6 separate regions of the Homo sapiens genome follow, and regions 1, 2, 3, 5 and 6 are each reported to be linked to region 4. Evidence: microRNA targets listed by miRTarBase, many of them from high-throughput screens and not tested one by one. Region 4 holds a microRNA gene; each other region holds the end of a gene's coding sequence. Distances are from middle to middle.

Region 1 (5,474 bases), 620 kb from region 4:
ATTTTTGTATTTTTGTAGAGACAGTTTCATCATATTGCCCAGGCTAGTCTTGAACTCCTGAGCTCAAGTTATCCACCCTCCTTGGCCTCCCAAAGCGCTGGGATTACAGGAGTGAGCCACCACCCTGGACCCCACTGTTTTGTTTCTGCAAAGGGAAATCCTTGAACAGATAATAGGATTTAACCAGCTTCAGCATAGTGATTCGGGAAAATAGACCTCAGAATTGGGGGCATTCTAGAGACCTGCCTACATGGGTTTTCTTCCTCTCCAGTCCTTGGTCTAGCACGGCTAGTCCTTCCTTCAGAGCCCCCCGACCCCAGGGGCTGGCCGGTGCCCCTGGTCGGGGCTGGGGTCTGCAGAAACGTGCACTAACCTATTGAACCCTGTCCCCAGATGCCGTGAAGGACTGCCGTGGGCGCGTGCTGGTGCACTGCCAGGCGGGCATCTCGCGGTCGGCCACCATCTGCCTGGCCTACCTGATGATGAAGAAACGGGTGAGGCTGGAGGAGGCCTTCGAGTTCGTTAAGCAGCGCCGCAGCATCATCTCGCCCAACTTCAGCTTCATGGGGCAGCTGCTGCAGTTCGAGTCCCAGGTGCTGGCCACGTCCTGTGCTGCGGAGGCTGCTAGCCCCTCGGGACCCCTGCGGGAGCGGGGCAAGACCCCCGCCACCCCCACCTCGCAGTTCGTCTTCAGCTTTCCGGTCTCCGTGGGCGTGCACTCGGCCCCCAGCAGCCTGCCCTACCTGCACAGCCCCATCACCACCTCTCCCAGCTGTTAGAGCCGCCCTGGGGGCCCCAGAACCAGAGCTGGCTCCCAGCAAGGGTAGGACGGGCCGCATGCGGGCAGAAAGTTGGGACTGAGCAGCTGGGAGCAGGCGACCGAGCTCCTTCCCCATCATTTCTCCTTGGCCAACGACGAGGCCAGCCAGAATGGCAATAAGGACTCCGAATACATAATAAAAGCAAACAGAACACTCCAACTTAGAGCAATAACGGCTGCCGCAGCAGCCAGGGAAGACCTTGGTTTGGTTTATGTGTCAGTTTCACTTTTCCGATAGAAATTTCTTACCTCATTTTTTTAAGCAGTAAGGCTTGAAGTGATGAAACCCACAGATCCTAGCAAATGTGCCCAACCAGCTTTACTAAAGGGGGAGGAAGGGAGGGCAAAGGGATGAGAAGACAAGTTTCCCAGAAGTGCCTGGTTCTGTGTACTTGTCCCTTTGTTGTCGTTGTTGTAGTTAAAGGAATTTCATTTTTTAAAAGAAATCTTCGAAGGTGTGGTTTTCATTTCTCAGTCACCAACAGATGAATAATTATGCTTAATAATAAAGTATTTATTAAGACTTTCTTCAGAGTATGAAAGTACAAAAAGTCTAGTTACAGTGGATTTAGAATATATTTATGTTGATGTCAAACAGCTGAGCACCGTAGCATGCAGATGTCAAGGCAGTTAGGAAGTAAATGGTGTCTTGTAGATATGTGCAAGGTAGCATGATGAGCAACTTGAGTTTGTTGCCACTGAGAAGCAGGCGGGTTGGGTGGGAGGAGGAAGAAAGGGAAGAATTAGGTTTGAATTGCTTTTTAAAAAAAAAAGAAAAGAAAAAGACAGCATCTCACTATGTTGCCAAGGCTCATCTTGAGAAGCAGGCGGGTTGGGTGGGAGGAGGAAGAAAGGGAAGAATTAGGTTTGAATTGCTTTTTTAAAAAAAAAGAAAAGAAAAAAAAAGACAGCATCTCACTATGTTGCCAAGGCTCATCTCAAGCTCTTGGGCTCAAGAGATCCTCCCACCTCGGCCTCCTGAGTAGCTGGGACTGCAGGTGTGTGTCATCATGACCAATGTGAATTGCTTTTGAAGCTGGTTCATGGGCATGTAGGCCACCGAAGCAATTTTAGACCACAGTAAGTCAAGCTTTTTTCCCTCCGATGATCACTGGGTGGTTGCAGCATTTTTTGCATAAACCTGCCTAAGACTTGTCTATCGTCTGTGATCAATATGCCATATTACACTAAGGTGCTCCTGGAAAATTGGGTGCAGTTCAAATTTTCCTACAGCAAATCATTTGGCAAGGCCAGCCATTGGGGAAACCAGACAACTAGAGATAACCCTGAAATGAATCCTTTTGTAAATTGAAGCACCATCTTTTCTTTTTTTGCATAAATTGGAGGTTTTAATTTTAGGGCAGTTACCTGAAGTGAAATATACCAACAATTTCTTGTGTTCTTTAAATTCCTAGTTAGGTGAATATTTTTGAAGGTCCTCTTTTGAATAAAGAGGGGAATGGACACCACATTTCAGGTCTTCTCGAAGTGTGGAAGGGCAAGAGAGCATCAGTGAGCTGATGGTGGATTGCTTACATCGGATTCCATTGGTATGAATTTCCCAAACTGGAAATCAAAGCGCCAGGGTGGGGTTGGGGCTGACTGCTGGTGAGGGGGCTGGCCGCTGGCTCCCGTGACGTGCGTCATGGGCACGCAGGCGCCATTTTGAATCTATCGTCGGCACGTGGGTGCCATTTTGAATCCTTAGTTGGGCCTTTCTAAATGGAGAATGGCTTTGGAGGGAGACACGTTTTCTGTGGGGAGGGTTTGGGGGGGAGGGAGGAGGGAACAAGCTACATGCTATTTTGTTTGTAGTATTGTGGAACAGTCTTGTTATGGAGTGCCAGCTTAGAGGTTGTTGCAAACTTGTCTAGAAGTGAGAGCATGGTTTTTTTTAGCCCTTTGAGAGTCTACATCTAATGAACATTCTTGCTCACCCATAAATAACGTCAAGCCTCAATGTCACCGTCACGTTGGGATACTCTTTCTCATCTGGCATCCTAGACAGGACAAGGTTGGTTACCTTTCCTTCCATGAACCATGAACCTGTGACGGCATCATTCATCCTGACTTCACCAAGCTCCGCCTGTGGGTGAGGCCAGAGCTCCCACTGGCAATTTTTAGAAGAGCCAGAGGCTCCCTGCTTCCTCTAGAAATAACAGTTCAGGGTGAAGCATGGAGGGTTTCAGTTCCCAGACAATGGAACCATTTAGAGACAACACAGTTGGACATTTCCACTTTTTCCTTGATTCCTGGAAGTCCAGTGGGTTCTGCAGCTGAAAAAGCCCTGGGTCCCAGCAGCAGAGAGACAGGACAGAGGGGATGCTTGGGCGGGGAGGGACGGTAACCTGCAGAACAGATTCCATTTTTATAGAACGAGTACACGTTTGCTAAAACAGTCCTGCTTTCCCAGACTGGATTCCCACCACAGGGACAGTCGGAACTCAGGACTAGCTCCAGCGACATCTTTCCTCCGAATTCAAGCCTTCTATCACAATGTCAAAACAGCTATTTATAAAGCCATTTTCATTGTACTTGATAACAGCACGAGTCCCAAAACTTTTAGAAATAAAATAGGACATTGGCTTGATTGAAAAGAGGGACTTTTTAAAAATTGTTCTTTCGTCAGAAGCCTTTTGGATGACTTACAATAGCTCTGATGAAGATACCACCCCAGCGTCAGTCCAATAGGTCAGTGAGTTTCAACAGGCATCCATCCCTCCCATGAAGGGATTCTGGTGATGGGAAGTTTCTGTAATGACAGGAAAGCATTGACCCTCATTGATTGTCAACTTTGGTATTAGCCATGAAAGACAGGATGCTCATTGGGTGTTCTGTAGAGTGAGGAATGCTGCCTATTCCCTCCCAGAACGTCTGACCCAGGGGTGTGTGTTGAGGAGCCCTGGGGGAAATGGACCAAGTTTTCCCACAGAGCAGTATTAGGCTGAAGAGCAGGTGACTGGTAGGCCCCAGCTCCCATCATTCCCTCCCAAAGCCATTTTGTTCAGTTGCTCATCCACGCTGGATTCCAGAGAGTTTTCCAATTTGGGAAGCCATGAGAAAGGTTTTTAAATCTTGGGAAGATGGAGAGAGGGACATAGGATAGTTGACTCCAACATGACAGGAAGAGGCTGGAGATTGGGAATTGGCCATCAACCAAGCCTGTAGTAGTAAAGCCATGGTCCCGCATTGGAATTACTTGGGGAACTTATACAGTTCTGATACCCAGGCTCTCCTAGACCAGTTCAACCAATTCTAGGTGGGGGACTCAGGCATCAGTGTGTTTCGTAGCTCCCCGGGTGTTTTCCCTGTGCAGCCGAGCTTGGGAAACTGCCATGCTTTTTGGATGTCAAGGCGCTGTTGGAGGCTGGGTGTGACAGCACAGAGCCAGGTTGTCTTGTGGAAACCACAGCCACGGGTTTGCCACTGGCTCAGCATGGCCTCACTGCCAGTCCCAGCCTGGCTGAGGGACAAGATGGTTTCTCTTGGGAGTTCCTGAGTGGAGCACCCTTCCAGGCTTTTTGAAAGCCAGCTGATCTGTGGAGCCTTGTTAAGGGACTCAATACGGTGTTTGGATATTGATGTTTTTCCTTGAGACTGTCTTGTCCATCAATAAAGATGGAGGATGTCTCCTCTTTGAACCCCGCTTCCCCACCAGTACTCTCTCTCCCTTAGAGTTTATGAGTTATTCAAGGAGGAGACTTCTTAAAGACAGCAACGCAATTCTTGTAACTTGTGTAAATAGCCCCATCTTTCAGAGTGATACCATTTCTACATTTGATAATGCCTGTATTCCTGTAGGATGTATATAGTTTAGGGGATTTTTTTTTTGTTTGGTTTTGTTTTTTAGAAGTCAATATGTCTGGTTTTATTTATTGCTTGAAAAAGATCATTTGAAAAAAATAAATACATTTTCAACCACTTCTGGCTTGGTTAGACCTTTCCTTGAAAACTGTTCTGCTGTTATGACTTGGAAGGGGAGGAAAGAACCGCTGGGTCAGTTAATAATCTTGCCCACTTAATAGCGCAGTGGAGATGGAGTCCATTTGTTTACCTTCTTTTCTTTTCTTTTTTTTTCTTTTCTTCATGGAGCCCTTTTCTTTTCTTTCTTTCTTTCTTCTTTCTCTTTCCTTCTCTCTGTGTCTCTTTCCTTTTCTTCTTTTCTTTTCTTTTTTTCTTAGACAAGGTCTCACTGTGTCCCCCAGGCTGGAATGCAGTGGCACAATTGTAGCTCACGGCAACCTTGAACTCCTGGGCTCAAGCAATCCTCCTGCCTCAGCCTGCCGAGTAGCTGGGATTATGAGTGCACACCATCACACCAGACTAATTTTTTTTTGAGGTAGGGTCTCACTCTGTCGCCCAAACTGGAGTGCAGTGGCGCAATCTCGATTCACCACAACCTCTGCCTCCCAGGCTCAAGCAATTCTCCTGCCTCAGCCTCCTGAGTAGCTAGGATTATAGGCACGTGCCATTACTGCCTGGCTGATTTTTTGTTTTTGTTTTTTGTCTTTTTGAGACGGAGTTTTGCTCTTGTTGCCCAGACTGGAGTGCAATGGCACGATCTCGGCTCACTACAACCTCCACATCCCAGGTTCAAGTGATTTTCCTGCCTCAGCCTCTGGAATAGCTGGGATTACAGGCATGTACCACCACA
Region 2 (5,474 bases), not on the chromosome of region 4:
TTGGGAGTAAAGAGCCCCTAGGTATTAGTATCATTTTTGTTCTTTTTAAAACAAGGTGCTCTGTGGCCTATAATTACATTTAGCTTAAAGTCTTTTGACTTTTTTTTTTTTTTTCCAGTAAAGGTTAATGTGGACCATGTGCAAAGCAAGATTTCAATTGAGCAGAAGCTTTTAGTTTAGCATGTTTGTGGTTTGGCTGGCCCAAAGGACACTAGAGAGTTTACCCATGCACTTTTAGCTTGAAACATTAATTTATCATGCATGTCTGCATGTGAGACAAGCAGATGCAAAGCATGTTCTGCCCTTCTGTCTCGGAGGGAGAGCCATGACAGCCCTGCAGCCCCAGCACTGCCCGTGTTAGCTGATATATACCAAGTGATAGAAACTATTCTGTCTAGAAGGCTTGATTTGACTATAGTTGTTAAAGTTGCCTGATTCTTTGTGTTACCAGAGGGAATACTGAGTGTCTGAGGTTACATTGGTAGGAAACTCCCTGCATAACATTCCTGATGTGAAAGTCACAGAGATTACCCACTTGGGAGAAGAGTCTTATGAATAAAATTTGTTGCCAGTTATTTAGTTTTAAAATTTTCTATGGCTTCTGTGAGTCATGGAGGTTAATGGAATACATTTGGTTTCAGGGAGATACATCTGGGGACTATAAGAAAGCTCTTCTGCTGCTCTGTGGAGAAGATGACTAACGTGTCACGGGGAAGAGCTCCCTGCTGTGTGCCTGCACCACCCCACTGCCTTCCTTCAGCACCTTTAGCTGCATTTGTATGCCAGTGCTTAACACATTGCCTTATTCATACTAGCATGCTCATGACCAACACATACACGTCATAGAAGAAAATAGTGGTGCTTCTTTCTGATCTCTAGTGGAGATCTCTTTGACTGCTGTAGTACTAAAGTGTACTTAATGTTACTAAGTTTAATGCCTGGCCATTTTCCATTTATATATATTTTTTAAGAGGCTAGAGTGCTTTTAGCCTTTTTTAAAAACTCCATTTATATTACATTTGTAACCATGATACTTTAATCAGAAGCTTAGCCTTGAAATTGTGAACTCTTGGAAATGTTATTAGTGAAGTTCGCAACTAAACTAAACCTGTAAAATTATGATGATTGTATTCAAAAGATTAATGAAAAATAAACATTTCTGTCCCCCTGAATTATGTGTACATGTGTGTTTAGATTTATTATTAAATTTATTTAACAATGTTCTCTCTTTTTAAGCTAATAATTGACAGTGGTGTTAGTTGAGAACTGAATTTACAGTTGGTCTTTTGGGCAGTAAGAAATGCAAACCATAGACTGAATTTCCTTCATAGTACATGATTTTTCCTAAATATAGGAAAGATCGAAGGGGTCTCTGGTTTATTTGCACCATGTTTATTTAGGCATCTATTAAAGCAATGCTTGTGGTGCTACTTGCTTAGTAGAAAAGCTAATTATAAAACTTAATGCAAAAATTCAGAGTACTACCTTTCTCTTTCCTCTTTCCTATTGTGAACTTGCCTCCCATTTACTGTCTGTCACTTTCTTTGAGATAAATAAAAAAGACAATAATTTTTTCTAGAAAGAAGCAGTTTATCGATCTCTTCTAATATTTGCCTTTCAGTTTTCTGTTTTCAAACTGCCATTTCAGTTGGTGTCATTTTTCTTTTTGTACTTATGCCCTTCTGGTTGCATTTTTTTTTTTAAAGCCAAGTAATTGCCATTAATAAGCTTTTTTAAATAAAATGAACTAATCTTCCTTTGAAAACTTTAAAATAGTGATAATATTCTTTTCACCACCGTTGATGCTCATCAGAATAACCAGGGGAATCTTAAAAACTGTATGTGTACACATGATATTGGATTTTTGTTTTTTTGAGAGGCCTCATAGGCAATTTTAATGCAGAGGCAAGTTGAGAATCAGTTGGTTATACTTTTCACATAGAAGATGATATGTTTCAAAGAGCTCTGTTCTGTTATTGAAAATAGGCCACTGGCTTTAAATATAAGCCCTGGATTATTTATTAGTAACACTTTAAGAGAAATCCACCTGTGAGCTTTAACATTTGCTATATTTTCTGTAGGTCTGGATCTGAAAATTTATTAATAAAAGAATTAAAAAAATAAAAATCCACAAAAAACATTTGCTATATTTATTTACTTAGTGACCTTCTTCCCAGCTCTCTGTGAGTTTATTGGGAGACAAATTTTTGTGGAACTAGATAAGCTGATTGTAAACATCATGCAAAAAAGGAAGGATTGTTAGTAAAACTTGAGAGTAGTGAGGGAGCACTATTCTTCTATTCTTTACACAGATTAGACTACATATCCTGAATAGCTGAAACAGTATAATACTGTGGCATGAATAGACAGACAAAACAGCAAGTTCAGATATGGAAACAAATCATTTGGAAATTTAGTATATGTTAAAGGTAGGTCTTAATTTGCTGGGTAAAGATAGCATTTTTTTCTAACAAATGGTGTGAAGACAGTTGGGGAGCCATCTAGGAAAATATAAGGCTTTTTCTATACCTCATGTATCAGGTAACTCTCAAAATGAAACATTTAAACTTAAAAATAAAATCATAAACATATGAGAAAGAAGCATGGAGGGATTTCATCATACCTGCACCTTCTAGATTCTCTGGGAAGCAGATGCTGAGATGGAGTTAGGGATGCAACAGGTTTATTGAATGGAACAGGTAGAAGGCAGGATTGGGCAAGGGGTGTCATCAGATTGCACTGCAGACCTGACCAAATCTTTGCCAGTATCATGTGGAACTCTGAGGCAAAGAGTTCCTGCAAAGAGCCCTTTGTGAGACAGAAGTGCCTGGGCCCTGTGCCACCACCTTCCTTACTCAATTATTGGCTAAGTGTCTTCTGGAGAAGAGCTTGGCTTGGCTGGAAAGCTGAGGCAAAACCTGAAGGAGATTAAGAGTTGGAAGGCTGTCAGCAACCCACATTTTCACAGCTTGGAACTGAGTATTTTCTTGAAAGGGGATCTAAGTGGTGCAGTTCCATGTCTGCCATAATGATCTTGAAGTGTGAGGCCTTTCTATCACCCAAAATCCAGAAGCCATAGGAGAAAAGATGATTATTTTTGATTTCCTAAAAATCAAAAACTACATGGAAGGCAGGCCAGGCACAGTGGCTCATGCCTGTAATTCCAGCACTTTGGGAGGCCAAGGTGGGTGGATTGCTTGAGCACAGGAGTTTGAGACCAGCATGGACAACATGGCAAAACCCCATTTTTATTTTTTAAAAAACCAAACAAAAAATTAGCTGGATGTGGTGGCACACGTCTCTGGTCTCAGCTATTTGGGAGACTGAGGTGAGAGAATTGTTTGAGCACAGGAGCACAAGGCTGCAGAGAGCCTGAAGGAGGGAAGGAGGAAAGGAAGGAAGGAAGGGAGGGAGGGAGGAAGGGAGGAAGGGAAGACGGGAGGGAGGGAGGAAAGGAAGGAAGGGAGGGAGGAAGGGAGGAAGGGAAGACGGGAGGGAGGGAGGGAGGGAGGGAAAATCACCACCAAGACAATTTAAATGACAAACGGGAAAACATTTACAGTTCATACAACAAAGATCTAATCTCCTTTGTACATGCTGACACACCTTGTTTTATTGTACTTTGCAAACAATTAAAAAAAAATTTTTTTAAACAAATCATAAGTTTGTGGCAACCCTGCATTGAGTCAGTGTATCAGCACCATTTTTCCAATAGCATGTGCTCACTCTTTATCTGTTTGTCACATTTTGGTAATCCTTGCAATATTTTAAGTTTTCATTATTATGTATCTTATGGTGATCTGTGATCAGTGATCTTCAATGTTACTGTCATAATTAAGGTGCTATGAACCATGCCCATTTAAGACAGTGGGCTTAATTGATAAATATGTGAGTTCTGACTGCTCCACCGACTGGCTGTTCCCTCATCTCTCTCTCTCTTTCTCTCTCTCTCTCTGATCCTTTCTATTCCCTGAGACAAAACAATATTGAAATTAGGCCAATTAATAACCCTGCAATGGCCTCTGAGTGTTCAAATGAAAGGAAGAGACTCACACATCTCTTATTTTAAATGAAAAGTTCAAAGTGATTCAGCTTAGTGAGTAAGGCAGGTCAAAAGCCAAGGCAGGCTGAAAGCTAGGCTACTGGTGCCAAACAGCCAAATTGAGAATAAATGTAAATTTTAATTTTCTTTCTTGAAGAAAATTAAAAGTGCTACTCCATTGAACACATGAATGATTAAGACAGTGAAATAGCCGTATTGCTGATATAGAGAAAGTTTGAGTAGTCTGGTTAGAAGATCAAACCAGCCACAACATTCCCTTAAGTCAAAGCCCAATCCAGAGCAAGATCCTAATTTTCAATTCCATGAAGGCTGAGAGGTGAGGAAGCTGCAGAAGAAAAGTAAGTGAGCAGTTTTGGTTCATGCGGCTTAAGGAAAGAAGCCGTCTCTGTAATAGAAAAGTGCAAATTGAAACAGCAAGTGCTGATGCAGAAGTTGCAGCTAGTTCTCCAGATGACCTAGCTAAGATAATTGATAAAGGAGGCTACACTAAACCACAGATTTTTAGTGTAAACAAACAGCCTTCTATTAGAAGATGCAATTTATAGCTAGAGAGGATACATCAATGCCTGGCTAAAGCTTCAAAGAACAGGCTGACTCTTTAGGGGCCAATGCAGCTGGTGATGTTAAGCTGAAGCCAGTGCTCATTTACCATTCCCTGGATCCTAGGGCCCTTAAAAATCATGCTAAATCTACTCTGCCTGCATTCTATAAATGGTACAACAATGGATGATAGCACATCTGTTTATAGCATGGTTTGCTGTTATTTTAAGCCCACTTTTGAGACCTGCTCAGAAAAAAAATCCTTTTCAAAATATTACTGTACATTGACAATACACCTCATCACTTAAGAGCTCTGATGGAGATTTAGGAGGAGCTGAATGTTGTTTTCATGCCTGCTAACACAACATATATTCTGCACTCCATAGATCAAGGAGTAATTTCAACCTTTAAGTCTTATTAAAAAATGTACTTTATAAGGGCATAGCTGCCATAGATAGTGATTCTTTTGATGGATCTGGGCAAAGTAAATAGAAAACATTCTGGAAAAGATTCACCATTTTAGATGCCATTGATATGGTTTGGCTTTGTGTTCCCACCCAAATCTCATGTTGAATTATGATTCTGAGTGCTGAGTGGTGTGAAGTAACTGGATCACTGGGGTGGTTTCTAATGGTTTAGTATCATCCCCTAGTGTTGTCTCATAATAGAGTTCTCACAAGATCTGGTTGTTTGCAAGTGTGTAGCACCTCTCCCGTCACTCTCTCTTCCTCCTGCTCCACCATGGTAAGATGTACTTGCTTCTCCTTTGCCTTCTGCCATGATTGTAAGTTTCCTGAGGCCTCCCAGCCATGCTTCATGTACAGCCTGTAGAACTGTGGAATCAATTCAATTTCTTTTCATAAATTACCCA
Region 3 (5,417 bases), not on the chromosome of region 4:
GGTTATTGTCTAATGTGATGTTCTCTTTTAAATCTAGTTTTATTGTCCATATGTTCTCTACTTTGTGATCCTAATCCAGATGACCCCTTAGTACCAGATATTGCACAAATCTATAAATCAGACAAAGAAAAGTAAGTGTTTACTTATTTTAGTTTCTGTATGGATACATTCCTATATAGTATGCCAAAACACGAATATTATCAATATGTTTTAAGTCAATTTGATTATGGTTGTTATATGTATATTGTTTATCTTTTTCCAATGGAGTAAACCTTTCTTTGAGAACTCTGTTAGACCTTTTATGATAAATCTTGTTCCTTCCCACTTACTGTTCAATAGTATATACTCTGTATTTGAAAAATAGATGTATATATTCTAGGTGATAAATTAAAAATGAAAGAATTTAATCATTGGAAAGTATTAAATATATATTGCTTATCTTCTCCAAGGAAGAGGAGTTCTCTCGTACCCATCCAAACTGACCTAATTCTCAAGCTGCTTCATCTTGCTAGTACTGTAGGTTCATTTGCAATTTGTAGATAATGCTCCTTCAGGATTGGCTTTTGTAAATTTCTGTTAGAAGCTGGTTTCTGCATTTTGATTTTTGTGTATTTGGATACATTTTCATATAGGTTGCAGAGAAATCCATGAGTTAAAAAATTATTTTTCCTGTTTTATTTCTGCATGAACCTAAGTCACATTGACCCAGTAATTGATATATGTGTGATTATTGCAATTAAGTATAAGAAGGTAGAATATATAGTTTTATTAGACAGATGCTTCTGAAATATTAATTTTGTATGTTTTTACTATATCCTTTTTGTGTATCTACAGATACAACAGACATGCAAGAGAATGGACTCAGAAATATGCAATGTAAAAATCAAAAACATTTTCATATATACCAGAGTACTGTAAAATCTAGGTTTTTTTCAACATTAGCAGTAAATTGAGCACTGTTTACTGTTTCATTGTACCATGAAACCATTTGATTTTTACCCATTTTAAATGTGTTTCTGAAGCAAGACAAAACAAACTTCCAAAAATACCCTTAAGACTGTGATGAGAGCATTTATCATTTTGTATGCATTGAGAAAGACATTTATTATGGTTTTTAAGATACTTGGACATCTGCATCTTCAGCTTACAAGATCTACAATGCAGCTGAAAAGCAACCAAATTATTTTTTGCTGAAACTAGATGTTTTTACATGAGAAATACTGTATGTGTTGTCTAAGATGTCAGTTTTATAAATCTGTATTCAGATTTCATTCTTTGTTAGCTCACTTTATAATTTGTATTTTTTTACTGTATAGACTAAATATATTCTATTTACATGTATGTCAACTCATTACTTTTTTCCTGTGAACAGTATTGAAAAACCCCAACGGCTGATAATTAAGTGAATTAACTGTGTCTCCCTTGTCTTAGGATATTCTGTAGATTGATTGCAGATTTCTTAAATCTGAAATGATCTTTACACTGTAATTCTCAGCATACTGATTATGGAGAAACACTTGTTTTGATTTTGTTATACTTGACTTAACTTTATTGCAATGTGAATTAATTGCACTGCTAAGTAGGAAGATGTGTAACTTTTATTTGTTGCTATTCACATTTGAATTTTTTCCTGTATAGGCAATATTATATTGACACCTTTTACAGATCTTACTGTAGCTTTTTCCATATAAATAAAATGCTTTTTCTACTATTTGTCTTGATTACTTAAAAAAATAAAAATATAAGTAAGGATCAAAACTCTAAAATTTTGCATGAAAATTACATCCAAATTGTGAAAATCAGATCTATTTTGTTTGCCATTAGTCACCATTAGTTATATAAATTTTATTGTTTTAGGTTAGTATCTCTTTACTAAATTGTCAGTCTATAAGATAATATATGTTGATCCCTTGCTGTAGAGGAGAATTTAGAGTAATTTGGGGTTTGTCTTGGATTATATCTAAATGGATTATTTGTTAAAAGTACTGAAATGAGTATAAGGCAGTATCACCCATCCAAAAGAAAGGTCTTTATAGACCTGCACAGTCACTAGATTAATTCATTAAAATGCCCCCACCCTGATGTAATTGACATTACATTTCTTAACATTTTAAAATCTAGAATTTCTAAAATGGAATTTAATGCCATCACAATTTGAAAAACTTTTTTTTTTTTTTTACTATAGAAGTTACAAAGGAAGTTCTAAAATTATGCCTCCCTCTGTTTTTATAAGTTGCCATCGAAAAGTGATTTAAATAAGCAGGTTATCTTTATAGATTTTAAAGAAAACTAGAAAGTTTTAATGTTTTAACTTGGGGAAAAATACATCTCTTTAATGTTTAGCATGCTTGTCAACCTTGAGTGAGTGTCATTTTTAAGAACAGTTGTAGCCCTTCTGATTATTGCAGTAGCTGTAGAAGTATGTAAGAATATGTGATGGGTGTAGTCATTAGCAAAGCATTTAAATCACTTGAGTATTTTGTCATGGTTCATTATTATTAAAGCACAAAATAACCTATTGTTAGAAAATATGTGTTTTTATAAATGAATGTAAAATAATTAAATGAATTGTGAAATGGATGTTTAAGAAAATATAGGCTTAAAAAGTAAATCTATAAAATGATGTCTTAAAACAGCCATATCATGAAAAATTCTACTTAGCTATATTATTATAAGCTACATTTGCCCTGAATTTGAACACTCAACATCACTAGATTTAAATATTTAGTATATTTTGATAGTAAAGGGTTTTGTTTCTTGAATATCTTCACTTTAAACAAAAAAAAAAAACAACTTTCATTTGTGTGGCATTTATTTTTGGAAGTGTCTTCTTTTTTTTCTTTATTAAAGTTTTTGAAACTTGCCTAACTTGTTTGCCTTTGCTTACATCTGGATTGTACTGGACTTGAGGAGTAAGCAGAAGTTCTCATAATTAGCTAAAAACCTTGAGTTCCATAGTGGCGTCATGATCGGTCAGAACACCATTTTGGGTATATTATTTTTGCTTAACTCTAACAAGGAGAACATCAGTTACCTTTTAAAACTGTAGAATAAAAGTCAGGGCCTTTTGTGGATTAAGCATTAATTTAAGGACTTCCTTGGAGTGAGAGAAATAGGTAGTCTTTTGGGGATTTAGGATCCCACTTCTTGAAGTTGCATAGTTGAAAACCATGTTCAAATTGGATTCTGAACGCTTATAACTGCCATATACAGCAGTTACCCACATCAGTGACATGGGTTGTAAGGGGCAGCCTCACCACCATCCTCCAACTATCTCAAAAGCGTACAATTCCTGAAGTACAAGCTTTACATATATGCCTCCGTCAACCTTATTTATTAATTTTTGCATTATTTCCCTGTTTCACCCCTTTTAAACGCTGATAGGGAAAATTAAAAATTATAAATGAACTGCATATCAAGGACAACTCTAAGAGTTAACGTTCAAAAGTTACTTTTCATAAGAAAAAAATAATACATTGCAGTTTTAAATTTTTCTTATTTATCACAGTGATCTATCTAATGATTCAGTCATTGATGTTTGTCAAGATCCTGCTCTCCCACAGTTCTGTATTTTTTAAATGGAGAGATTAAGGAAATTAATTTTCCTCCCAAATTAAAAGAAATTATTGGTCATGAAACTATATCATGTCTGTTTATTGGTAGTCATTTTGAACTGTACAAAAGCCCAGCCCAGTTGATAATGCTTTAAAATTTGAGCTCTGCAGTAGAATCATCAGTCCTGTTACTCTATCTTCTTAGGACCAGCCATGAAAAATGTGATCAGTGCTTTAGCCATGGCCATAAAAACAGAGCTTCATTGTATTCAGATTGTTGAAAGTACTGTTTATCTTTGTTTGTTTCAGTCTTTTAAGTGATTATTACTACAATAAAAAATCTGATTTTTAAAAAATTAGTTTTATCACTTTTCAGCTGTAAAGTAGGATTTTCACAATTTTTTTTTCTTTAAAGCAGAGGCTTAATCACAATTTAATAGCTGTAAAATGTAATGCAGATTATTTATGAAAGGTCTTATAATGCTTCTCTTTTATTCTGATGGTTGTGTTGCACAAATAGGGCAGCAGGTAGAGTCTCATCTAATTTCACTTACAAAAGTTCTTATAGGTAGATAACTAGTCATTTCTACTCTCTCTGTTTTTGAACTGAGTAATGTGTCTGTAAGCTCTTCTTAAACTGTGTAATTAATATGTTTTCCCTAGTTTTTTTCAGTAGTGGTGATAACTGAAAATTTGTAGACGGCTGATAGTGTCCTGGTGACAGCCTAATAGATGTTATATCCTTATTTGTATTTTGTTACATTTACAATTCTGCTCCCATTATCCTGTTATATAAGAATGTGGCTTTAAATTGTAAATGAACTGAACTAATAGGAAGAGAGAAAATTCACCTGAGAGTATTAGTATTGGGGGGCATTTTATGTAATAAGAAACATTTCTCTAAAAACTTGGTTAGCACTCTCTTAGGTCCTACTGTTGTCGAGGGAGAGATGTGCCTTTCTTCTCTCAGAGGAGGTTGCTTTTATTATACTGGCATATGCTGAAGGTCTGAACTCTGCTTTCCTCATATAATTTACTTGGCAGGAAAAACTGTTAAGATCTCTTGAGTGCAAAAGATCACCATGAATTGCATATGAAATATTTCAGTATAAACTCTTAATATACATATTGTGGGAACAGTTGTGATACCACTTGTGTTAGCACTTTTGGTACACTTGTTTTGGCAGTCCCACACATTCAACGTGTGGATAGAAGAATGCACAGGACCCAACATACCATCATACTCAACAGTTAAGATTTATTACAGCCACCTGGCAAGGATACACAGTGGGGGCAGTAAGGGGGAAAGACAGACCAGGCAGTCTGGAGGAATCCACGTGCAGGCTCCCTGTGCTCTCCCTGAAGGGGCCACAAGAGTGAAGCCTTCCTCTAGTAGTAGCATGGGCATAGTGTTTCTGCCCTAGGATGCTAGTGTGAAACGCAAAGTCCAGGGTTTTTATTGGGGGCTAATCACATAAGCATCCTTTGTTTTCCAAAATTCTAGTCTTCTAGAAGGAAAGCAGGTGTTCACCATAAATCACATTGTTTATTTAAGAAGTCTAGTCAGGCTAGCACAGCAAGCACATCTTATCACTCAGGGATGGTTTCAGAAGCCAGGTTTCTAGATGTCAGCCAAGGGCAAACCTTGTAAACAGGCCATTCTAAAGATCAGGCCTGTATAATTTGTTAAAAAAACTATTCTTTCCCTTTGAATGGCCTTAGTACCCTTGTTGGAAACCAACTGACCATAGAGGTTTATTTCTGGTCTCTCAGTTCCATTCCATCAATCAATATGCCTTATCCCAGTATGACACTGTTTTGCTTACTGTAACTTTGTAGTAGCTTTTGAAATGGGGAAGTGTG
Region 4 (5,474 bases):
AAACTTTTATAGGGGAAAAAATAAGTGACTAGATTTTATGGGAATGTAGCTCTGTTTCACATTAGGGGATTGTCTTAGATAACATTTCACCAAGTTATTAAAAGGACTTCTGTGAGCAGAGAATTGCATGGTAAGATATGCTAGAGAAACTCTGGGTTATACAAGGTAAACCAGTCTCTCTTCTGCAGGAATTTCACTTTGCGGGACGTGGAGATTGCTGATGGGGTCTAAGAGTGCCCTGCTTCTGCCAAGCTTGTTTAAATAGCACTATTCCAAGGACATTCCATGGAACATAAGTGCACTAAATGCCAATGTGAGAAGCTGATCAAAGCCCTAATTTTTGAACTGTGTCTGCCCGTGAAGTCCTGGAGTTCCATGGCTGTGCCTCAAGGCTACTCAAGAAAGGGAGGGAGGAGACGAAAGTGGGGAGTCCCTGAGCCAACAGAGCCCTGAGCCTTTCATTCCTGTGGTTAGCCAGAGTCCTTTTACATCTATATTTATATACTTATTTAACATCTTTATATTTATATATTCATTTTATATCTATATTTATATGCTGGGTTTCCAGGTAAGATTTTGGTTATGTAAAAACTCAGGTCTTTTTAAAAAAAAAAAAAAGTGCAAACACCTCATCTAGAATCAGTGCATCCACACAGACATAAGTCTAAGGCAGCAGTTCTATGAAGACAGTTGTGGAACCAGGCTCACCCCTAATATCAGCATTGCCTTGGCCAAGAGTACAAATGGAGGCCCACATAGATTATACATCCAATGTATGAGTTATATATCAAGCTAGCATCACTAGTTAAAACATTGCTACTTCCACAAATATACCCAAATTCAGAATCCTTAGACTTCCAGAAATCTACTGAAAAATGGTCTCTTCCCACCTCCAGTTCCTACCACAAGCAGTCCAGTGTACAACCAAGAACGTAAGTTAAAGCTTCACCCGTGGTCCTTGAAACAGTAATGATTTGACCATCACTTGGCTCAAGTGGGCACACACAGTCAGCATACTTCACTCTAGAGAGGAAAGACCTCAGAAAGAGGGCCACAAGCCTTGGAAGTTTAATTGTGACCATTTGGGCAGAGAATTCTGAGGTCTCATGTATCAGGAATGTGTTCCAGAAGGAAGATATATGGGGTCCAGATGGTTTTATTCTCTTATCCCAAGGACTTCTTGCTTAATGGGGAGGGAAAGGAACAAAGAAGGATGAGAGTGGAGCTCTCTAAAGCATAGGGCTCAAAGCAAGAGGTCTTCTTGCCAGGATTTAGGGCAGTACTAGCGGGAATCCCAATTGCAAGACGTCAGGCAGAAAAGGAAAGATGAAGTTGTCCCATGGGGCCAGCTTGCAGAAACCCAATCATGACAGCGATTGCAAACACTGTGGGGCCAGTCTCGGTGCACCTGAGCTTTCTTTTTTCTGATGAGAAAACCCAAAGCGTTTTATTTAGCTTTCTGAGCTAATCTTATAAGAAAATAAAATTCCAGCCTCAATTGTTGAAATTGTTACTTAGGAGAAAACTAAATAGAGAAATTTGAGATTAAATTCATAAACAGGGATGTTAGTAACAAACCACTTTGTAGGAGTTAGTGAGAGACGATGAGTCATAAAGACAAATTTCAAGCAAACATTTACCCATTAAACAAGTGTCATTAGCATCCATATTATAGGTACTAGGGATATGCCAGTGAATAATTCAAAGTTCTTGCCCTTGAGGAACTTAATTATTTTAGGATCAGCACATATATGTGTGCTCACACACCACACCCACTTCACGCACACACTTGAATAGTGATAAATTCTACGATAAAATGTAAACAGAGGTGGGAGTGGTGAGTGAAGAACTCTCTGAAGCTGTGATACTTAAGCAGAGACATGAAAGAAATGAGCTTTGTACACCTCTAGGGGAAGAGCATTCCAGGCAGAAGTAACAGTAAGTGCAAAGTCCCTGGGGTAAGAATAAGCTTAGAATGATCAAAGAATAATGCAGGAAAGTATAGCTAGGTCAGGGTGTGTAAAGGGGAGACAGGTAGAAAATATGAGAGTGGAAAGGTTGGCATTGCCAGATTGTGCAATGTACCATGTGGATCTAGAATTCAAGACAAAGGTCTGGACTCCAGCTGAATATTCAGGAGTGACTAGCAAGAGGTGACAGTTAAAGCTCAAAGAAAAAAAAATTCACCCAAGAGTAAACAGAATAAAACTAATCAAATTTGAGAGGAGTCCTGGAAAGCATTGATAGTGAACATGGCAAGAGGAATCAACGATGAAGCCTGGAAATAAGTGATCCTTTCTGGAGGAATGAAGTGTACAGGAGGGTTAAATATTAAAGAGAAGTTAGTTCAACTTAAAACCACCAGAGGTCCATTGGCTTTGATGAGCAGGAAGTCACTGGGGGCCCCTGCCAAGGCAACTGCTATGCACTGGTGAGAGTAGAAGTCAAAACTCTACTTGAGTTTTGAAGTCAAAACCCTTGAGAAATGTGTTAGAAATGAGTGAGGAGATTCTGCAAATTTGGATTGGTTTTTTAAGAATCTTGGCTGTGTAGGAGGGAGAATGGATAGGGCAGCAATTTCAGGATGAATTGGGGAAAATACTGGAGTTAAGTTGGAAAAAACTGATGTATGCTTGTTGGCTACATCAATAAGCACACACCAGTTTTTTCCATCTTAACTCCAGAAAGGAGCTGAGAAAGAAAGAGACGTTTAAGGTGCATGGGAGAGGATGTTGCTGAAGCAGCCTTCTCCATTCCACACATTGCCTTCCTGTGGGAAGACTTCAATTAACATTGCTTACTCTATCTTATTTGATTGGCAAATTTAGGAAGAAAATGGCAATCTTGGCTCAAGTCTTCCCTTTGCCCTATCAGAAGTGAACCTGCCCACAGAAGGCACAAATTTGCCTCTGCTCCTCCATGATGTAATTTTGACCTGTAAAGGCTACCATACAGCACTGCTGAGAACTGACCAGTCCTGGGGTTCAGATCTCAGGTCCATTTGACAGAGACACCAAGCCACATCCTCCAACTCAGCTCTATCCATAATATTGCTGTGGCCTCTGTCTTTATTCTTTGATTCACTTCCTGAATTGTGCAGCACTGAGGTGGAAAAGACAGAAGGCTGCTTACTGGTCCTCAGTGGACTCAACATTGTGAATAATTGATTAATTAAGATATGAAGGAAAGGAAAGGAAATTTTACAAAGAAGGAGCAAACAGAAGAAATGACTTCCCATCCTCTCAAACCAAAAAGTAGGAGAGAAGCATGTGCATGGGAGACAGGAGTTGAAAGTGTTCACAGCTGATATTGTCTACTTTCTCTATGCAGCTGGAAACAAAGCTATTTGCTGAGAGTGAGAATGTTAAAGATTTGAAGCCTTGAAGAGGTTGAAACACTACTTGAGAGAATGAGAGAGAGGGGATAAAGGATAAGTAAATGTGAGGAAAGTCCCCTCATTGCAATATGTTCACAACTAAATTGCACTTGCCCCAAAAACAAAGCCAAGGGAAAAAAATGTAGAAAATGTAGGTAGAAATGGCTACATAATCAGCTTACAATTTCAACTACAATTGACAATCAGTATTCCTCCCAGGGTAGACTCTTGGGGAAAGAGCAAGGGCCTAGAAACCTGGATTTATATCCCAGAACTGCCAGTAATGAATACATTGGGTGAGCTGATGAAGAAGATAATTGCATGTGGTTGGAAGCTGCTGGCAGGGCCCTCATGACCCCTCCCTCCTGGTGTCCACTCCTTTGTGTAACTCCCTCCTCTTGTATGTGAGCTTGACCTAATGACTCACTTCTAAAGAACTGAGTCCAGCAAGAGTAATGGGATGTCACTTCTGGTATTAGGTTACAAAAAACTGACTTCTGTCTTTATCCACGCTCTCACTCTCTCCATGTTTGCTCTGATGAGGCAAGTTGAAGAGGTACACATGGTGGGGAACTGAGGGTGACCTCCACCTGACTACCAGCAAGGAACTGAAGCCCTCAATGCAACACCCATCCAGGAACTGCCCTGGGTCCATAAATACATGAGTGAGATTGAAAGAAGATCCTTCCCTGTTGAGTTTTCAGATCAGAATGCAGCCCTGGTCAGCACTTCTGTTGCCTTCTTATGAGGGATCCCAAAGCTGTGCCTGGATTCTGACCCACAGAAACTGTGAGCAAATAAATGTGTATTATTTGAAGCTGCTAAGTTTGGGGGCAATTTGTAATGCACAATAAATAATTCATGATGTGAAACTGTCTGTCATGCTGGTAGGAGCTGACTGGTGTTTCCGTGGCAGCTGAGAGATGGATCATTTAATGGGATATTGTATTAGTTCATTCTCACACTGCTATAAATAACTGCCCAAGACTGGGTAATTTATAAAGAAAAGAGATTTAATTGACTCACAGTTCTGCATGGCTGGGGAAACCTCAGGAAACTTATAATCGTGGCAGGAGGGAAAGCAGGCACATCTAACATGGTGACAGGCGAGAGGGAGCATGTGAAGGAGGAACCGTCAAACACTTATAAAACCATTATACCTCGTGAGAACTCACTATCATGAAAACAGCATGGGGGAGACGGCTTCCATGATCCAATCACCTCCCACAAGGTCCCTCCCTCAACATCTGGGGATTATGGGAATTACAATTCGAGACAAGATTTGGGTGGGGACAAAGAGCCAAACCATATCACATATCTTTCTGTCCTTCTCCCGATTCTGTCCAAAGAGAAGATGAAGGAAGAGGGATAGAGATAACTGCAATTTATATTTATCAAGTGCCTACTGTGTGCCAGCACTTTAATAAGTACATAATTTAAATTATCTCATTTATTCTTCACCAGAACTGTAAGATAAGAACTTCCATTCTCCTTTTACAAAAGAAGTTACAGTCTCATACAGTTGCTATGAGGATTAAATAACAAAATATGTGTAAAGCACCTGACACAGTACTTGGCAAATTATAGTTGCTAAATAAATCTTCCTCAGCTTCCCTTCCTTGTCCTTACAGAGAAACAGCCTGGTTGAAAAACAGAGAAATTAGAGGCTTGCATACTACCTCTACGATTATTGCAGTACTAGAAGAGAGAGTTGTAAGAATAAATGATGAGTCAAGATTCAAAATTAATCCTGACACTCAAGAGTTCTGGGCCAAAATTACTAAAATGAAATGAAACAGGGTTAATGTGAAGATTTACATTTAGGTTTGAAAAATTAATCAAGTAAGCTTAGGAGAAACTTGACTAGACAGTAACTTATATAAAACAGAGCTAGGGTCAACCACCCAGCTTAAAATGAGCCAAAAAGTGATAACTGGTTCCTAGAAAAATAATTATCTTGTTCTTGGTCTTCATTGATTCAAAAATAGTATGTCAATAGTGATGCAAGAAGAGAAGTATCCCTATGCACTCTGCACTGGTCAAAGCACAGCTGGAAAGTCAAAACTAGATGTGGGCTCCATGTTTTATAAGGAAACTG
Region 5 (5,474 bases), not on the chromosome of region 4:
GGAATTATATGACTTAGATGTGTCCTCTCCAAATCTCTTGTTGAAATGTGGTCCCCAGGCTGGGCACAGTGGCTCACACCTGTAATCCCAACACTTTGGAAGGCCAAGGCGGGCGGATCACGAGGTCAGGAGATCGAGACCAGGCTGACCAACATGGTGAAAACCTATCTCTACTAAAAATACAAAAATTAGCTGGGCGTAGTGGTGTGCCTGTAATCCCAGCTACTTGGGAGGCTGAGACAGGAGACTCACTTGAACCCAGGAGGTGGAGGTTGCAGTGAGCCAAGATCGCGCCATTGTACTCCAGCATCGGCGACAGAGCAAACCTCCATCTCAAAAAAAAAAAAAAAAAAAAAAAAAAAAAGAAATGTGATCCCCAGTGTTGGCTGTTGGGCCTAGTGGGAAGTATCATACCATTGGGGCTGATCCGTCATGAATGGCCTAGCACCATCCCTTAGGGATGAGTGAATGCTCACTCAAGAGAGTCTGAGACCTCCCCCTCTCTCTCCCTTGCTCCTACTCTTGCCTTGTGACATACCTACTCCCACTTCACCTTCTGCCAAGAGTAAGAGCTCTGAGGCCTCACCAGAAACCCAGCAGATGTGATACCATGCTTCCTCTATAACCTGCAGAATCGTGAGCCAATGAAATCTCTACTTTACAAATTACCCAGTGTCAGGCATTGCTTTACAGCAATGCAAAACTGACTAAACACCACAGGATCTTTGGGAGGCTGAGGCGGGCAGATCACCTGAGGTCAGGAGTTCGAGACCAGCCTGGCCAACATGGTGAAACCTGACCTGTACTAAAAATACAAAAAATTAGCCAGTCGTGGTGGAGGGCACCTGTAATCCCAGCTACTTGGGAGGCTGAGGCAGGAGAATCACTTGAACCTGGGAGGCGGAGGTTGCAGTGAGCCAAGATTGTGCCACTGCACTCCAGCCTGGGCAAGAAGTGTGAAACTTTGTTTCCAAAAAAAAAAAAAGGGGATCATCCCAATAGATGCAAAAAAGTTCAATACAACTTGATGAAACACTCAATAAATAATGAACAGAAGGGAACTTCTTCAAACTGAATTAAGGCATTTATTAAAAACCTGCAGCTAACATCATACTTGATCAGGAGACTAAATGCTTTCTCCATCAGATTAGATAAAAATATTGTCATATCACAGGGCTATCCTTAAGTCAAAATGAACCATCCAAATAATACTCAGAAATAACGACAAAGAGTAAAGAGCAAAAAATGGGAATGATTCACATGAGACAATACTCTATGGTAAACTTTACATACTGATAAATTGATACCAAGTCCTTATTAGCAAAGAAAATGGAGTCAACATTGTATCATGCCAAAAAGAGTAGTTTTCCCCATAATAAAGGAAAGTGGAATACATATGATGGGTGAGGAATATGCAGAATCTGCCACATAACACCAGTAAGAAATCTCTATTAATAAAGACTCATGGGCCGGTCGCAGTGGCTCACTCCTGTAATCTCAGCACTTTGGGAGGCCAAGGTGGGGTGGATCACAAGGTCAGGAAATCAAGACCATCCTGGCCAGTACAATGAAACCCCGTCTCTACTAAAATACAAAAAATTAGCCAGGCATGTCGGCACGCGCCTGTAGGAGGCTAAGGCAGGGGGATTACTTGAACCCGGGAGGTGGAGGTTGCAGTGAGCCAAGATCGCGCCACTACACTTCAGCCTGGCGACAGAGCAAGACTCAGTCTCAAAAACAAAAGAAAACAAACAAAAATAGACTCATTTTGTAATGGCCCATTCATCACAGAACAATTAAACACTACATAAAAATTAAACCTGCTTACATATTAGAAATAAATTTCACTTCACCCACAGATCCAACACTTTAAAATGGATAGAAAAAAATGAAAACCAAAATGGATAGAAAAAAATTTTATTAACTAACTTAGGATAAAAACACTTCCTATTAAACCTCAGGTACCACTGCTTAAAGAGTATCATTCTCACATTTCCTTGCAAAAGTGGAAACCCATAATCCAAAGATCCTTTTTAAGAATGAGTCACAGGGGCCGGGCAAGGTGTCTCATGCCTATAATCTCAGCACTTTGCGAGGCTGAAGAGGATGGATTCCTTGAGGTCAGGAGTTCAAGACCAGCCTGGCCAATGTGGAAAAACCCTGTTTCTACAAAAATACCAAAAATTTAGCTGGGCATGGTGGCGTGCGCCTGTAATCCCAGATGCTTCGGAGACTGAAGCAGGAGAATTGCTTGAACCCAGAAGTCAGAGGTTACAGTGAGTCAAGATCGCGCCACTGCACTCTAGCCTGGGCAACAGAGTGAGACTGTGTCTCGGGAAAAAAAAAAAAGGCCAGGCGCGGTGGCTCACACCTGTAATCTCAGCACTTTGGGAGGCCAAGGAGGGCGGATCACAAGGTCAGGAGTCTGAGACCAGCCTGAACCACATGGTGAAGCCCCGTCTCTACTAAAAATACAAAAAAATTAGCCAGGCGTGGTGGCATGTGCTTATAATCCCAGTTACTCAGGAGGCTGAGGCAGGAAAATTGCTCACACCCAGGAGGCGGAGGTTGCAGTGAGCCGAGATTGTGCCACTGCACTCCAGCCTGGGCGACAGGGCAAAACTCCATCTCAAAAAAAAAAAAAAAAAAGAAAGAAAAAAGAATGAGCCACTGATAAATGCTATATATTTATAACTTTGTGTAATAACTCATTCATGATTAAGTTTTTGAGCATTATATAATAATTAATTTGCATCAGGCTTTCAAAATTACTTACGTTTATAGGATTTCTTTCGAGTGGATGTTCTCACATGATTAATTTTTTTAGACAGGGTCTCACTGTTGCCCAGGCTGGAGTCCAGTGGCGCAATCTCCACTCACTGCAACCTCGACCTCCCAAACTCAAGCAATCCTCCCACCTCAGCTTCCTGAGTAGCTGGGACTACAGGCGAACACCATCATCCCTGGCTAACTTTTCTATTTTTTGTATACATGGGATTTCTCCAGGTTGCCAGGCTGGTCTTGAATACCTGGCCTCAAGCAATCTACCCACCCCAGCCTCCCAAAATGCTGGGATTACAGGGGAGAGCCACTGTGCACAGCCCATGTGAATTTTAATTATTGTTAAAATGGAAGTTTCCTGTATTTTCCAAACTACTAACGTTTCCATCCAGTGTGTATTCTTCGATTCATACCATCCATCTCCAGTGTGCACTGACACGTGTCTTTGAATGGAGATGAGAGCAATGAGAGTTTCCCCATATTCTGTACATTTCTACAATTTTTCTCCAGTATGAGTCCTTTTATGGCTCTGAATAGAACTGGAATATCTGAGGTCTTTGGATTTTTTTCCAGTTAGTCTTTTCATATCTTTGGAAACTGAATGTATTCCCATATTCCTTACATTCATAGGATTTCTCTCCTGTATAAATGAGAATTATTTCTTTCCCTTTTTTTCTGAGACAGAGTGTCACCGTCATCCAGGCTGGAGTGTAGTGGCACGATCTCAGCTCACTGCAGCCTCAACCTCCCAGGCTCAAGGGTTCCTCCCACCTCAGCTTTCTGAGCAGCTAGAACTACAGGGATGCACCACCTCACCCAGTTAATTTTTTTTTTCTTTGGAGATATGGGGCCTTCTTTTTTTTGTTTGTTTTGAGACGAAGTCTCGCTCTGTCACCAGGCTGGAGTGCAGCGGCGCGATCTCGGCTCACTGCAACCTCCAAGTCCCTGGTTCAAGCAATTCTCCTGCCTCAGCCTCCCGAGTAGCTGGGACTACAGGCACACACCACCACGCCTGGCTAATTTTTGTATTTTTAGTAGAGACGGGGTTTCACCATGTTGGCCAAGATAGTCTCCATCTCTGGACCTCGTGATCCACCCACCTCGGCTTCCCAAAGTGCTGGTTTTACAGGCATGAGCCACCACGTGATATGGGGCTTTTTTGTGTGTGTGTGTGATGGAGTCTCACTTTTGTCGCCCAGGCTGGAGTGCAATGGCGTGATCTCGGCTCACTGCAACCTCCACCTCCCAGGTTCAAGCGATTCTCCTGCCTCGGCCTCCCGAGTAGCTGAGATTACAGGTGCCCACCACCATGCCCAGTTAATTTTTTTGTATTTTTAGTAGAGACGGGGTTTCACCATGTTGGCCAGGCTAGTCTTGAACTCCTGACCTCAGGTGATCCACCCGCCTCAGCCTCCCAAAGTGCTGGGATTACAAGCGTGAGCCACCGTACCCAGCCGATATGGGGCCTTCTTATGTTGCCCAGGCTGGTCTCAAACTCCTGGGCTCAGGTGATCCCCCTGCCTCCTGCCAAAGCACTGGCTACGCCCGGCCAAATGAGTTCTTTCATGAAGTCTAAGGTAATTTGAAAAAGTAAAGACTTTACCACACTGTTTACAATCAAAGGGTTTTTCTCCAGTGTGAGTCATTTCATGTCTTCGGAGGGAACTGCACCACCCAAAGGCTTTACCACACCTTGTACATTCATATGGCTTTTCTCCACTATGAGTTTTTTTATGTCTTCGAAAACAACTGGGATAATTGAAGGTTTTACCACATTTATTACATTCATAAGGTCTTTCTCCAGTGTGAGCTCTTTCATGTGCTTGAAGGGACGTGGGACATCTAAAGACTTTGGCACATTTTTGACATTCGTAGAGTTTTCCTCCACTATGAGTTCTTTCATGTCTGTGAAGGGAACTGGAACAACTGAGTTTTTTCCCACATTCCTGACATTGGTGGGATTTCTCCAGCGCGTGAGATCTGATTTCATGTGTCCGAAGGTAACCTGCGGAAATGAAGGCTTTACCACATTGTTTACATTTGTAAGGTTTTTCTCCAGTGTGAGTTCTAACATGAATTTGAAATAAACTGGGATAATCGATAGGTTTTCCACAGTATTTACATTCATAGCGTTTTTCTCCAGTATGCATTTTTCCATGTTTTCGAAAGAAACTGGAAACTGTGAAGGCTCTCACTATTTCCCTACATTTATAGGACCTCTTTCCAGTGTGAGTTCTTTGATGGATTTGAAATAAATTGGGAGAATTAAAGGCTTTCCCGCACACCTTGCATTCATAAGGTCTCTTTCGAGTTGGTGTTACTGTGCGCCGTGCACCACTACTGGGGGAAATGGAGGCTTTCCCATGTTGTTTCTGTTTACGGGGCGTCTCTCTCCATTCCCCACCACACTCAGATCGTTTGTGTCCAGCATGAGCTCTCATGTGCCTGTCCAGGAATGAATGACGGAGGAAGACTTTCCCACACACGCTGCATTTGCATGGTTTCACTCCAGTTTGACTTTTCTTGTTCAGGTGACAATCAGGAATCTGGCTGAAAGTTTCTCTGTGTTCATTCCCTTCTTTACGTCCACAGAGTCTCTCCACCAGACTTCTATGAAAAATGACAAACGCATTATCAATGCTTGGTTTATTAATGCTTTTCTACTAATTGACATGTCTTAAGACTTATGCTGC
Region 6 (5,474 bases), not on the chromosome of region 4:
TATGTGGGCTACCCCACCTTGATGCCCCTGAAAACTGTGGAACTGTCTGGCCTAAGAGAATCTTTTGTTGAGCTAGAGAGGAAGCAGGGGCACCCATCAGCTCTTACTCTATGGGGATGCTATTCTAATGCACTTAGGATATGTGTGCCCTTTCTTATTACGGGAATAAATATGCATATAGACACATCTAGTTTATTACTATTTGAAATGAGTGCACGGCTTGAGACTACCCTGGCAATGCATACTTTTTAACTAACCTTTCCCCGGATGGAGTGACAACAGACCCTCTAAGGGGCTGAATGCCCTCTGGTATGTTTGGGAGCCAGAATTAGGCACCAGGTACATCAAAGGCACAAGTTCACTGTTGCCTTCAGGGCTCTAACTTACCAGGGATTCTGGCCTCAGTGGAGGACATTGTGATGGAAGGAGAAGGTAGATTGACCTGCAGAGTCGGTTAACGTGTGGCACAGCACTTGGGCCAGGACTAACGAGCTGTTTAAAATATTTACGGGAAGACAACTTGGGAGAGGTGATCTTTGCAGTGAGTCCCTAAGTGTCCTGGGTAAGAATAGACCTGGCCTCTTAAGGCACTCCTCTTAAGCAAAGGAGTACCATGGCCATGGTCAGTGGGATCCCACAAATGTTCTTAAATGGGTAAGGCTTTAAGTAGCCAGAGAGTACCCAGCCTACCATTGGCTTCTCCACATCCTAAAACCTGAGACTAATCATGGTCATGGGGACCTCCCTTTTCAGGAATTCTTTTGAGGAGGTGCAGGCTCTGTGGGCCCTAAGTTAACTGTTTCCTCCAAGGGGGTTGTTTATTTCATTTTTCAAAGTAGACAAGTAAATACAATGTTGTCACTTTTTAAAGATGTGATTCTTTTCCAAGTAAGCCAGAGAACCTGTCAAAAGTGCCTAGCTCAGAATATGCACCTGATAGTTTTGAGTAGAGGGTGTGAGGGGCTCCTGTACAGAGTCCCACTGTCATCCTCACCTTCTGAATCCTCTCCCTTCACCATCCTGGTTTGTATTTGTGTCTGAATCCTGGCCCAGTCATTCTGCATGTTCCCACTGTGGGCTGGATCATCTCACATGCCCTGTGGTGAGAATCCTGGGTGTGCAGTGGTATCGGACGTGGGTCCATTTTAGAGAACCTGGAAAGCCTATGCCCCTCCTGAGGAATGGGCAGCTGATGTTTCCCCTCTATTTGGCAGAGAACTCTCCTGGCCATGGGAAGTCGCCTGACCACAGAGGCCGGGTCAGCAGCTTGCTGCACAAGCCCGAGTTCCCTGATGGAGAGATGATGGAAGTCCTCATCTAACTGCCATCCCTGTGGAATTTCAGTACAGAACACTGACAAACAAGGAAAGCGGCAGAGAAAGAAGAAAGACCTAGAAGGTTGTAGATGGGAAATCAGGAATGATTTGAACTGATAAAGATTTCAGACTCATAAGAACACATTTTATAAATGTTAAACACAAAAACTACATGACTGAAGATAGAAGAGAATGCGATGGATTTTATTACACATGGTGGAAGAGAGAAGAGGCGTGTAGGTTTGCAAACAAAGTTAAGAAATAGGAAACTGAATTTTTCATTGTACAGAAAATGTATCTCTTGGGGAGGGCCTGTGTACCCCCATTCTCTGATTATAAACAGATAAACCCAAATGTGGATCATCCTTGGAATACCCCCATTCTCCTTGCCTCTTAGCATGTTTGATTTAAGAAAAGCCTCCAGGAAATCTTGAGAGCCTGTCTTGGCATAATGCAGTGTCACCTGTGCCAACCATGGGGTGTCCCGTGAGTGTGAGTGTGGCAGTGAGAAGAAGCATCGAGGGCGAGGGGAATATGAAAGTTGGTCTTCACCTAATTACCTGTTTGGTTTGGATTTTCAAGAGATGATTGGGCTTCTTAGCTTTTCTGAATTCTGCAGTATTTTCTAAACAGGATAGATTATGATCTCGGTCCCCATCCATCCTAACTTCTGAGTTCATCTCTGTCTCTGCTTTACAGTCTTTAATTTTTTGTTGTTCCTTCATTTTTTTCTTTTTAATAAGACATAGCAGAATTCCTTAGGTATGGGATTTATGAGACCAGTACCTGAACTGTCATCATTCCTACTGTGTTTGATAGTGACCAGTAGGACAAAGCCACGTGCCGACTTCCTGGCTGCTTCACCTTTGCATAGCTGGGTTGCAGCTGCGAACCTCATTCTGACTGTGAACTAAGCAAGCTTTGAGGAGGCAGGAGATTCCGTGGGTCCCTGTGACATATTGCATTAAGATCGTGGCACTTGCTTTTTTGTCTTTCACATCGGCTGTCTTGCAAGGAGCTTGACATTTCCAAATTCCATTGCTCTGTTTGGGGAAGACTTAGGACAGCACTCCAGGAAACAGATGACAATTTACAGACAGTTGTCTCAGTGGTTTCCAGAATCTCACCAGCCTCCCGTATAGCTTCTTGTATTGAGGCTCATGAGCGTATTCACACTCTTTCCTCCCCCGCGCACGCCTCTGCTTGCTCTCGATCAGCATCCAGACCTCCGTGGCACCAGGTTGCCTCTGTTGTGAACTTCTTTTGTAACCTACCAGGCCAGTTGTATATACAGTGTTGTCAGGTTTTTCCGGGTTTCAGTTTTGAGGCAGTTTATTCAAAGTGAGACAGAAGTGCCACGGAAAAGAGGCAGGAGTGTGTTAGGTGGTGGGTCCATTAGACCTCTGCTGTGACATTGCATATTCAGCTCTGCAGACACTGGCTTCCTTTACAAATCTAAGAGATGCTGGATTAGAAAAGAGGAGAAGCTCATCGGGCCATCAGAGAGATGCTCCTACAGGGTCCTGATGTTTTTGTACCTCCAGGTCAGCTGGATCGCTGTTTTCCCAGTTCCCTTTGCTCATGCTTACTTAGAGGAAGAAAGAAAGGGGGGTACCTCTTCCAAGTACCTTCTAAATGAAACACTCAAGAGAGTGCTACTCAGGAAACTTTGCTTGGATCCTAAAATGGACTGGTCTTGGGTGTGTAACCCCGGTGAAGTTATAGCCTCCCCAAATTGAGGTGACAGAAGGAAGACAAGAGGTGTAAGCTGGAGAGGGAAGGGAAGAAATCAGTGGCTTTGGCCAGCCTCTGTGCCACCCAGTACGACAGAGGAGTGGGAACTGGCCCTCTGGGGCTCTGCTTGGCCATAGGCACTGCACATTGTGCCACCTGCTCATCACCTCCTCTAGTCTCACACTGAGCATCGGAGTACCTGTTGTGCAGACAGGAAAACTGAGGAGCTCTGAGAGGCTGAGCATGGAGCTCACCCCATGCCATAGGGTGTGGGAAGAGGGCACAGGAGGCCTCATCCATGGGGGAAAGGGTTGAGGATGGACATGGGTGGGGAGAGGGCATAGACATCCCTTCCTAATCTCTGTTCCCACCACATTTCATAGGAGATGAGTTAGGAGATGACAGCTAACTCTCTTAAGGACATTTTGACCCCAGTTTATGTTGGGGATGGACCAGAAAGGAAAATGTCTAGAGATAGGAAGGTAAATCAACTCTGCCAGCCCCTACCATCAGGTCTGGGCCACCCCAAACTTGGGCTGCCTCCCTTAGACATAGGTTAGAGTGAGAGACCCAGCTGTTTCTCCCGAAGCCTCGTCTTCATGCCCCAGACACCTGATTGCCCCAATCAGGTGTCAGACTTGCTTGCTCTTCGAGGTCCCCCTGAGCTGCCAAGTGTTTTCATTGTAAACAGACACATCGCCATGTTTCAGGGCTTCAACGGCATTGTATTTTGGACTTTGACCGTATTTTTTTTCTCTTAACCTACTGAGACTCTTCCTTAAGAACAGGATCTATAGCTTTAAAATGTCTTCTTCTATGGGAAATTTCCTGCCAAGCCAGGGCACTAAATTCTTTCATCATTAGAGCTTTCCTGAAGTCCGGCCATATACTGAGTACCTGCTCTGAGTTCTGGGCAGCTTACAATATCTTAAACAGATTTTCAGAAAAATAATGCAACTATATTTTCTAGTGTCAACTGTATGCAAACAGTGTGGTAAATACCTTTTAATTAGTCCTCCACCCACCTGGAGTACAGGGGGTGCGTTTATTATTCTGATTTCACTGATGAGGAAATGGGCTCAGAAAGGTTAAGTCCCTTCCTGAAATCTCACAGCCAGGAGAAGCTAGGATGATTTAAAACAAAGTTTGGAGAGGCACTGGGCATAGACCCTGGCTGTACAGCCTCTAACATGCGGCACTGCATCTTGGCAGTCTCTATGCCTGTCTGTGATGTGTGTGTGCACGTGTAACTACACACACACACACACACACACACACACACACACACAGCTATCACACATCTCAGAGCCTAAGAAATAGGACTAAGCCCAGAACTCCTAGAATCACCTATAAATGCTAGGCATAGATGGAAATTATTGTGTTCCACCAGAAGCACAGCTCCAAACTATACCTAAAAAATATTTCTGCACTTCCCAGAGACCTGGACTTCAAACTTTCCCAGTGGAGCCTGATTATAGAACTTGAGGGTCCTATCTCAGGATGAAGGGGAGAGGCCCTGGCTTCACGGGAAGGTATTCCAGCATTGTTCTGCTTCACCCTTGACTGCGTTGTCTGGCAGTTTCTGTGTGCTGCCAGGATATTATATGGAACTGGAGAAGTTGGAGTCAGGTCTCTGAAGCTAGAGTTTCACTAATTAGATGCCTCTGTACATGAGAACTATTACTGTCTGCAGGTCCATATAGCTAAGCTGCCAGGAAAAACACATTATCTTCCAAAACTTTCAGAGCATGTGCAGAACCCTTTCTTAGCGTTTTCTTCTCAGCATTTTCTCTGCCTCCCAGAGGCTGGCAGCCAGTGACACTGCAGAGTTCAGCATGTTCTAACCATGCACGCAGGGCAGGGGCTGCCTTGGCCCTCCTCAGGCTTTCGTTGGGAGAGCAGGCAGTGGTGGAGCCCTTCTGGGTGCAGTCCTCTGGGGTTGCTCTTTGGAACTCATGTATGAGTTTGACTCCACAAGGCTTGGCATGGATACCAAAACAGTTGCAACAAATTAGTTCTGAACCTGGAACAGAGAATTCAGTGCTTCTGTTACTCAGGAAGGAGGTGTTCAGAATGCCCCGTGCAGAGCAGCCAGTCATTACTCTTGTTTGTTCTCACCTGGGTGCGCACCCTCATGATGCAGTGGCTGTAGCACCTTCATGCCAGGTGCTGAGAGAATGGGAAATTCTTCCTCCCCATTGACCTGAGTCCCAGAGACTTAGGGACACAGACTTCAGGTGAGGCTGCGGACCTCAGAAGCAGTGGATAATAGATTGGGGCATTAAAAGCTTTTGAGGCAGGGGGCTCATGTTTTGACTGCAGGGAGTTATGCTGAGCAAAGAGATGTGTTTTTCAAAACCAGGGTTCAAAACCAGTGTCCACGCTGGAGTAAGTGGAGCATGCTTCTCTGTGTTCTCTGAATGA

What was found. The annotated mature microRNA hsa-miR-3148 reads UGGAAAAAACUGGUGUGUGCUU and lies in region 4 at 2,651-2,672, opposite strand. An mRNA with a match to its seed (bases 2 to 7 or 8) in the 3' UTR can be bound and repressed. Matches are read on the target gene's strand: a 7mer-m8 pairs with bases 2 to 8, a 7mer-A1 pairs with bases 2 to 7 and ends in A, and an 8mer does both.
Region 1: miRTarBase lists DUSP4 as a target of hsa-miR-3148. Seed matches in the 3' UTR shown: 7mer-m8 at 1,913-1,919, 7mer-m8 at 3,059-3,065, 7mer-A1 at 3,857-3,863 and 7mer-m8 at 4,405-4,411.
Region 2: miRTarBase lists ANXA5 as a target of hsa-miR-3148. Seed matches in the 3' UTR shown: 7mer-A1 at 946-952.
Region 3: miRTarBase lists UBE2D1 as a target of hsa-miR-3148. Seed matches in the 3' UTR shown: 7mer-m8 at 1,357-1,363, 7mer-m8 at 1,625-1,631 and 8mer at 1,679-1,686.
Region 5: miRTarBase lists ZNF101 as a target of hsa-miR-3148. Seed matches in the 3' UTR shown: 7mer-m8 at 2,336-2,342 and 8mer at 2,151-2,158.
Region 6: miRTarBase lists AMOTL1 as a target of hsa-miR-3148. Seed matches in the 3' UTR shown: 7mer-m8 at 2,621-2,627.

The regions. Positions count from the first base shown.
Region 1 is chr8:29,332,331-29,337,804 of GRCh38, reverse strand. DUSP4 (dual specificity phosphatase 4) reads left to right here. Exons shown (of 4, transcript NM_001394.7): 4 at 394-4,741. The coding sequence ends at 779. Among named protein-coding and RNA genes, the nearest start is that of DUSP4, 16 kb to the left of the region's middle.
Region 2 is chr4:121,663,695-121,669,168 of GRCh38, reverse strand. ANXA5 (annexin A5) reads left to right here. Exons shown (of 13, transcript NM_001154.4): 13 at 642-1,223. The coding sequence ends at 701. Among named protein-coding and RNA genes, the nearest start is that of ANXA5, 31 kb to the left of the region's middle.
Region 3 is chr10:58,367,886-58,373,302 of GRCh38, forward strand. UBE2D1 (ubiquitin conjugating enzyme E2 D1) reads left to right here. Exons shown (of 7, transcript NM_003338.5): 6 at 38-131; 7 at 835-2,863. The coding sequence ends at 880. Among named protein-coding and RNA genes, the nearest start is that of TFAM, 15 kb to the right of the region's middle.
Region 4 is chr8:29,954,668-29,960,141 of GRCh38, forward strand. It overlaps MIR3148 (microRNA 3148), which reads right to left and starts at 2,681; the gene lies at 2,605-2,681.
Region 5 is chr19:19,679,098-19,684,571 of GRCh38, reverse strand. ZNF101 (zinc finger protein 101) reads right to left here. Exons shown (of 4, transcript NM_033204.4): 4 at 1,066-5,391. The coding sequence ends at 4,272. Among named protein-coding and RNA genes, the nearest start is that of ZNF101, 13 kb to the right of the region's middle.
Region 6 is chr11:94,869,475-94,874,948 of GRCh38, forward strand. AMOTL1 (angiomotin like 1) reads left to right here. Exons shown (of 13, transcript NM_130847.3): 13 at 1,215-5,474. The coding sequence ends at 1,321. Among named protein-coding and RNA genes, the nearest start is that of CWC15, 100 kb to the right of the region's middle.